Regions from separate parts of the Homo sapiens genome. Here region 2 is linked to region 1. Evidence: fine-mapped expression QTL. A gene starts in region 1. The other region holds a variant in brackets. All regions are shown on one strand. Distances are from middle to middle. Region 1 holds the start of MICU1 (mitochondrial calcium uptake 1). Region 2 has its middle 24 kb from the start of ASCC1.

Region 1 (4,389 bases):
GAAGGAGTTGGTCAGTTAAATATTTCAATTATAATTATTTTGCATAATATTGCATTATGGAGAAATTTCATATCGTTTTATTCTTTTGTTGTTGTTTTAAGAGACAGGGTATCGCTCTGTCGCCCAAGCTGGAGTGCAATGGTACGATCACAGCTCACTGCAGCCTCAACCTCGAGGGCTCAAGCCATCCTCCTGTCTCAGCCTCCCAAGTAGCCAGGACTACAGGCATGCGCCCAGCTAATTTTTGTGTTTTGTAGAGATGGTCTTGCCATATTGCCCAGGCTGGTCTCAAACTCCTAGATTCAAGGGATCCACCCGGCCTCCCAAATTGCTGGGATTATGGGCCTGAGACACCACACCCAGCCTGTTTTATTCTTAAACACAGGAAAGTTAGTCTCAAGATGCACTTCTTAGGAATGTAAACAATCTACTGAATATAGTAAATATAAAGGAAGACAGCAATAAACACTTTTGTTCTCTTGCATTTATTAGCTTCTATTAGTTTCTATCATTCTTTCCCTTTCTCCTCAGGCACACAAGCCACTCCAGAATATTCACTTTTTGTTAATATTATGTTTTATGGCTCTCAGTAAGGACACTCAGAAGATGTCAGAGACACTTGCTTGATATATTAGGTAGCCAGAGTGATGTTCTTAAGTGGAAGAGACAATCAGGGACAAACCAAGGATTGGGACAAAGAGTAGCTGGAGGCAAAAGCCACCTTCCTACAGACAAGTGGCAATGGGTTCTAAAGTTTTTAGGATAAGGCAATATTCAAAAAGCTCATTACCTGGTCCACACCAGAAACACAGTAGGTGGGTCATTCTGGCCAACACCTTTGTCTCAAGATACTGACGTTTATTATTTGTCATATGGTCCAATGAAACCTAAACTCTCCTACAGCTATCCACACCGAACTTGTTTCACCTCATGAAATGCAAACTCCTTTCTTATACTGCTCGATCACTTCCCTACGTGCCCCAAAGGGATGTTCTAATATAAACAAAGGCATATCAAAGAAGCCACCCAAACAAGTGAGATAGAAACATTTATTGATAAATAGGAAGAAAATGGGCGTTTCTAAGGTACCACAGGAAAAATAAAATATTTTACTCTAGTCCCTTAGCTATAAGATATTTATTCTACTTATATTTACTAATGGCCACCGTATTTTTTAAGACATGGAAAATTGGAAGGTAAAGAAACCATCAACCATAAGATTACAGAGAAGGCAACTTGAAGAACAGTTTGTTTTAAACTGTTCTCCCAACATTCACATAGAGTCAATAACATCTAGCTCTTTCTCAAAACAGCCTATGGCCGGCCAGAATGCGACGGTGAAAACAAAACAGGGAGAACGTAATGAAAACGGGAAGGCGCTGGAAAAGATAAAAACTGAACAGTCCGAGTAGCCTGCACTTTGTATTTCTCCTTTGAGTCCTCACTGATTTTCCACTTATTTCGATTCAGTGGTTAATATTTCTCCGTATTAGAAATCCATCTGTGAACTCCCGCACCCACTTCTAACCACATCCACAAATTCCAGGAGAGCCAGTCAAGGCTACCAGAGTGTCCCAGTCGCCTGTGAGGAGGGGGGCGTCGGCGCCAAGTTGCGAACCCGGCACTGGGAGAAGTTCTCCCGGGACGGGAGAAGGGACGGGTTGGGGTGAAGGAAAGTGGAGGACGGGAGGCAAGCAAGACTACGGACTCCTCTCCAAAAGCTGAGCGCATCAGGGAGAGACAGGTATCCCGCCAGACCCGAGAAGTAGCCGGATGCCCGGGGCGGACAAACGGCCAGCCACGAAGCCCAGTTCCCTAAGGCTGTCTCGCCAACCCCCTTCCCCTTCGCCTTCCCTAAATTGCTGTCTCCTTATACCCTCCAGAGTCCAAGACTCACGCGTCCAAACACGAGCTCCAGCAGCCTCTCGGTCAAAGCCGCCCACCTCTGACAGCCATAGAGATGAAACAGCGGAGACAAACCTCCACCCCCTCCGCCCACTCTCACGTGACTCTCCTAGCCGCTGGGCCTGTCGGGATCGTGGAGACAGGCGTGTGGGAGGGGCACAGAGGAAAAGGAACGGGGAGGGGCGGGGAAATCAACGCGCCACGCCCCAGCCTCGGGCCCCGCCCTAGCCCCGTCACTCCCCCTTACTCCCCTCAGCGTTTAGGCGGGAAAGCTGGAGAGCTCCCAGAAGCTCTCGGGCATTTCTTCTGGTTTTTTTCCCCTCCACAAGGGTCATAGGAATCTGTTGAGAAATTTACTGTGGCTTGTAACACCTCCTCGGTACCCGTTTTCGTGTTGGCTATGTTGGCTAAGCAAAAAGGAGTTCGTGAAAAGAAAACTGGACCACAGTGAGTTGGAAATTGTTTCTTTCCAACTCCGTTTAGGTTTTCTCAGAGATTAAATGTTCCTGTTTCATAACCTTGAGACTTTTTTGGATTTAGAAACCCTCACCACTTCCTCTGGTGGATGATTTTGTCAGGTGTTTTATTTGCAGACTAATATTATTGCAGAGTTTATAATCTCTAGAAGCCACTTAAAAACATGTTTTCCCTTGAAGAATGTGTTTTTTGTTTGTTTGTTTGTTTGTTTGTTTTGAGATAGAGTTTCACTCTTGATGCCCAGGCTGGAGTGCAGTGGAGCGATCTCGGCTCTCTGCAATCTCTGCCTCCTGGGTTCAAGCGATTCTCCTGCCTCAGCCTCCCAAGTAGCTGGGATTACAGGCATGCGCCACCACGCCCTACTAATTTGTATTTTTGGTAGAGACGGGGTTTTTCCATGTTGGTCAGGCTGGTCTGGAACGCCCGACCTCAGGTGATCCGCCCACCTCGGCCTCCCAAAGTGCGAGGATTACAGGCGTGAGCCACTGCGCCCGGCTGAAGAAGGTGTTTTTATCAGAAAAATGGGATGGCAAAGGATCCTCACCCCTGCTGTGGAAATAGGATGGAAATATGACTATAATACCAGAGAATTTTTTTGGGGGGGGGGCAGCGGGGTGTTGGTTGGTTGTTTGTTCGTTTGTTTTGAGACGGAGTCTCGCACTGTCGCCCAGGTTGGAGTGCAGTGATGCTCACTGCAACATCCTCCTCCCAGGTTCAAGTGATTCTTCTGCCTCAGCCTCCCGAGTAGCTGAGATTACAGGCACGCCCCACCACGCCCGGCTAATTTTTGTATTTTTAGTACAGACGGGGTTTCGCCATGTTGGGCAGGCTAGTCTCAAACTCCTGACCTCGGGCGATCCTCCCGTCTCGGCTTCCCAAAGTGCTGGGATTAACAAGTGCGAGCCACCTCGCTGGTCCCAGAGAACTTTCAAATAATTTTTTTTTCCCAAGAATTTACGTAGCAGAGCTGTGGAAAAGGCAACAACCATGGAAACAAAGCCAACAAAACCATCCCTGGGGTAAATTGTGAAGTAAGCAGAATCAACTCTGTTTTCTCCATTTCTTCTCAGACCCAACTAACCTAAGTACAATAGATGATTGTGTTCATGGCTCTGTGCTAGCGCTTTACATACAACCCAGTGCTTGTCTACAACCACTCTAGGATGGATACTGTTTTATTCATTTGCAGATAGGGAAGCAGGCTGACACCCCTAGGTAATGCAGTACATGCAGTAGCGGGACATAGACCTGACCTGAAGGCCTCTGAGGCTTCCACTCTTAAATGATGTAATTCAGGCCGGGCGCGGTGGCTCACGCCTGTAATCCCAGCACTTTGGGAGGCTGAGGCGGGCGGGTCAGGAGATCGAGACCATCCTGGCTAACACGGTGAAACCCTGTCTCTACTAAAAATACAAAAAATTAGCCAGGCGTGGTGGCGGGCGCCTGTAGTCCCAGCTACTCGGGAGGCTGAGACAGGAGAATGGCAGGAACCCGGGAGGCAGAGCTTGCAGTAAGCCAAGATCGTGCCACTGCACTCCAGCCTGGGCGACAAAGCGAGACTCCGTCTCAAAAAAAGAAAGAAAGATTTGCTGAAATTCAATTCTAATTTTAGGCAACATTTGTCTATATAAAACTAATCAGTCAAACTAACTGTTAAATAACATTTAAAAACATAAATCATTGTTTCTCAAACGTTTTGGTCTTAGGACCCCTATACACTTAAAAATTATTGAGGACTCAAAATAACTTTTATTTATGTGTGTTATACCTATCGATATTTACCATATTCGGCCAGGCAGAGGCTAATACCTATAATCTCAGCATTTTGAGAGACTGAGATGGGATGATCACGTGAGGCTAGGACTTTGAGGCTACAGTGAGCTATGATCATGCCACTGCACTCCAGCCTGCGCAACAGCGCAAGAACCTGTCTCTATAAACTTTTTTTAATTTAGCATATGAGGACTTAAAATTGAGGCCGGGTACAATGGCACCCAGCACTTTGGG
Region 2 (4,389 bases), 390 kb before region 1:
AGAGTGCCTATAACGTCACCCTGACAGGTGGAGGCTGTGGAACAAATGGAAGCCGTTCCAAAGCAGTCATATCTCATGTGATCCCATCTACGCGATGAGCCAAGGCAAAGGGCACTGGTGGTTCCCTGCCGTCCTCATGGGCTCCTGCCCTGGGCCTGGTGGTAGGTTCACATGTCAGCAACCACGAGCTAATCTCACCTCACAGTTACTCTAATTTCTCGTGTCTGTCAAGTTTCCCAAGGAGGAGTTGTTTTCCCAAATCAGCCTGTTTCTTTTTATAATATAAGCTGTTTAGAGGCCAGGCACAGTGGCTCACACCTGTAATCCCAGCATTTTGGGAGGCCAAGGCGGGCAGATCACCTGAGGTCAGGAGTTCCAGGCCAGCCTAGCCAACATAGTGAAACCCCATCCCTAATAAAAATACAAAAATTAGGTGGGGCCAGGTGCGGTGGCTCACGCCCATAACCCCAGGACTTTGGGAGGCCGAGGTGGGCAGATCACCTGAGGTCAGGAGACCAGCCTGGCCAACATGGCAAAACCCTATTTCTAGTAAAAGTACAAAAATTAGCTGGTGTGGTGGTGCACGCCTGTAATCCCAACTACTCGGGAGGCTGAGGTGGGAGAATCTCTAGAACCCAGGAAACAGAGGTTGCAGTGAGCCAAGATCATGCCACTGCACTCCAGCCTGCGCAACAGAGTAAGACACTGTCTCAGAAAAAAAAAAAAAAAAAATAGCTGGGTGCAGTGGCACACGCCTGTAATCCCAACCACCCAGGAGGCTGAGGCAGGAGAATCTCTAGAACCTGGGAGGTGGAGGTTGCAGTGAGCCAAGACCGCACCACTGCATTCCAACCTGGGTGACAGTGAGACTCCGTCTCAAAAAAAAAACAAAAGAAAACCAAAAAAAACCTGTTTAGAGCAGGTAATGAAACAACATACAATTTGTTACAGCAATAGAGAGGATGTTCCTTTCCAAATGTCTGTCATTCTTTCAGCAGACGCTAGCACTGTGTGTCTAGTGTCTGCTAGATGCTAAGGATATGCTGTAAAACAAGACCCAGTCATCAACCTCAAGAAGTTTATAAATAAATATTAAGAGGAACAGAAAGGTCATTTTAAGTGTAATAATTGCTCTGATGGGGAAAGCATGAGGTGCTGGACAATCCCATAGCAGAGACAACTAATCCAGCTGGGCCAGGCATCAGAGAAGGCTTTAATGAAGGATGAGGTTTAGGCTGAGACCTGAAGAAAAAGTAAGTGGGGTGGGAAGGAAGAACTTTATAGGTGGAGGGAATACAATTTGCAGAGGCCCAAGGGTGGGAAAGGGCATCTTGCTTTTGTGGGGCTGCGGGTGGTTCGTTATGATTGATTCATAGGTGATAAGGGCAAGAATAAGGCAGAGGGTAGGACTCGTGGGCTTTGCTAAGGAATCTGAACTTCAACCAGAGGACAGTGGGGAACCACTGATGAGCTTGAGGCAGGAGCATGACAAGATCTGGTTATACTTCAGATAATTTACTTGGAGGGAATAGTGGAGAATTGGTGGTGGCGAGAGCCAGATTCCTTAGGAAGCCTTTGAGGTCGTCCAGGTAAGAGATGACTATAGGCCAAATTAAAGGTGTGGATATGACTGGGCGCAGTGGCTCATGCCTGTAATCCCAGTACTTTGGGAGGCCGAGGTGGGCGGATCACCTGAGGTCAGGAATTTGAGACCAGCCTGGCCAACATGTTGAAACTCCATCTCTACAAAAATACAAAAATTAGCCGGGCATGATGGTGGGTGCCTGTAATCCCAGCTACCCAGGAGGCTGAGGCAGGAGAATCACTTGAACCCAGGAGGCAGAGGTTGCAGTGAGCCAAGATCATGCCATTGCACTCCAGCCTGGGCGACAGAGTGAGACTGTCTCAAAAAAAAAAAAAAAAAAAAGATGTGGAGACAGAGGATGGACTTGATTTGAGAAGTGGCAGCGGGTAGTGGCTCACACCTGTAATCCCACACTTTGGGAGGCCCAAGTGGGAGGATCGCTTGAGGCCAGGAGTTAAGACCAGCCTGGCCAACATAGCAAGACCCCCACCTCTAAAAAAAAATTACAGATTAGCCATGCATGTTGGCACACACCTGTAGTTCTAGCTACTCCAGAGACCAAGGCAGGAGGAGTGCTTGAGCCCAGGAGCTCAAGGCTGCGGTAAGTTATGATCGTGCTATTGCCCGGGTGACAGAGCGAGACCCTGTCTCAAAAAAAAAAAAAGGCTGGCATGATGGCTCATGCCTGTAATCCCAGCACTTTGGGAGATGAAGGGGGGCAAATCACATGAGACCAGGAAGTTCGAGACCAGCCTGGCCAACATGGTGAAACCCCATATCTACAAAAAAGAGAAAAATTAGCCGGGCATGGTGGTGGGCACCTATACTCCCAGCTATTCAGGAGGCTGAGGCAGGAAAATCGCTTGAACCCGGGAGTCAGAGGTTGCAGTGAGCCGAGATTGCGCCATTGCACTCCAGCCTGGGCCAGAGCGAGACT[C/CA]AAAAAAAAAAAAAAAAAAAAGTCATATACAGGATTCAGTGACTGGTGGAACTTGGATAACTCAGAGAGGACACCCAAGTTTTCTTGTGTCAGGAGCTGAGGGACTAGTGGTACCATTCACTGAGATGGGGTACAGAGAGGGAAGCAGGCTACAGAGTTGTTCAAAAGGCAAGTGACTCCACCGGTCTATAGTCTGGAGAGTGAGCTGGGCTGGAGTTAGATTTGAGACTCAGCAGCCTGGAGGTGTTTATTAAGACAAAGGTGGAGAGTGGATAGATTGTCCAGGGAGACAGCCCATGGAGTGAGGAGAGAATCACACCAGGGAGGGATCCTCAGGGCATGCAGACATATAAGGGACAGGCAAAGTAGGAAGATCCAGGAAAGCAACTGGCAGGAAGTCCCCAGAGAGACATGGAACAAGGAATACGGCGTCACAGAAACCAAGGGGAAAGCACATTTTGAGAAGAAGGCTGCAAACAGCAGTATATGGTGCAGCCAAGCAATTGAGACAAGGGATGGAGAAGGCTTACTGCAACCTCCGCCTCCTGGGTTCAAGCAATTCTCCTGCTTCAGCCTCCTGAGTAGCTGAGACTACAGGCGCCCGCCACCATGCCCAGCTAATTTTTGTGTTTTTAGTAGAGACGGAGTTTCGCCATGTTGGCCAGGCTAGTCTCTAACTCCTTACCTCGGGTGATCCACCCGTCTTGGCTTCCCAAAGTGCTAGGATTATAGATGTGAGCCACCACTCCCTGCCTGCTGTTGGGATCTTACCATGGAGACTGTTGGTGACTTTTTTTTTTTTTTTTTTTTGGAGACAACATCTCACTCTGCCACCCAGGTTGGAGTGCAGTGGCATGAGATCACAGCTCACTGTAACCTCGCCCTCCCAGGCTCAAGCAATCCTCCCATCTCAGTCTCCTGATTAGCTGAGACTACAGATGCATGCCACCACACCTGGCTAATTTTGTGTTTTTGGTAGAGACACGGTTTTGCCATGTTGCCCAGGCTGGTCTCAGACTCCTGAGCTCAAGCAATCCTCCCGCCCTGGCCTCCCAAAGTGCTGGGATTACAAGGTCACCGTGCCTGGCTGGTGACCTTGTCTTAAGAGCAGCCATCTCTGGGTAGCAGAGACAGAGCCAGAATGCTGTGGGGGAAGAGTGAGGGGAGGAGGGGAAAGTGGGGCTAAATCCAGGCAACACTTTCCAGAAGTTCAACGGGAAGGGGAAGCAAAAACTGAGGGACTGAGAGGGGGACAGTTAAAGGAGAATGCATAGCAAAGAGCTCGTTTTTTTCTTTTACAATGGGAGAGGTCAAAGAAAAAGGGGATAATTGGCCAGGCACGGTGGCTTACACCTGTAATCCAAGCACTTTGGGAGGCCGAGGCAGGTGGATCACCTGAGGTCAGGAGTTCGAGACCAGCCTGGCCAACATGGCGAAACCCCATCTCTACTAAAAGTACAAAAATTAGCCAGGCATGGTGGCAGGTGCCTGTAATCCCAGATACTCGGGGGGCTGAGACAGGAGAATCGCTTGAACCTGGGAGGCGGAGGTTGCGGTGAGCTGAGATCGCGCCATTGCACTCCAGCCTGGGCAACAAGAGTGAAACTCCGTCTCAAAAAAAAAAAAAGAAAGAAAGAAAAGAAAAAGGGGATAATTGACGGACGGATCCCTGAGGAAGTGGGAGGAGGTGAGAGCCAGAGCCTGGCTGGCGTGAGGCGGGAGAACAGGATGTGCTGCTGTGGGTAAATGTGTAGGAGGGGCAGCAGGAAGAGGGGGCATTCCCATCCAGTGGCCTCTCTTTTCTCAGTAAAGGAGAGGCAAGTTGGCCTACTGCCTGTGTCCCAGGGTCAGAAGGCTTGCCAAACCT

The links. PIP is the estimated chance that this variant, and not a neighbour inherited with it, causes the effect.
Region 2: its variant is the best candidate, but not a certain one, in a credible set for the expression of MICU1 in whole blood (INTERVAL, PIP 0.55).

The regions. Positions count from the first base shown.
Region 1 is chr10:72,624,113-72,628,501 of GRCh38, forward strand. MICU1 (mitochondrial calcium uptake 1) reads right to left here and starts at 1,967. Exons shown (of 12, transcript NM_001195518.2): 1 at 1,898-1,967. RefSeq lists enhancers at 1,734-2,271, 1,822-1,971.
Region 2 is chr10:72,238,527-72,242,915 of GRCh38, forward strand. No RefSeq gene overlaps it. Among named protein-coding and RNA genes, the nearest start is that of ASCC1, 24 kb to the left of the region's middle. The variant C/CA (reference allele first, on the strand shown) is at 2,523.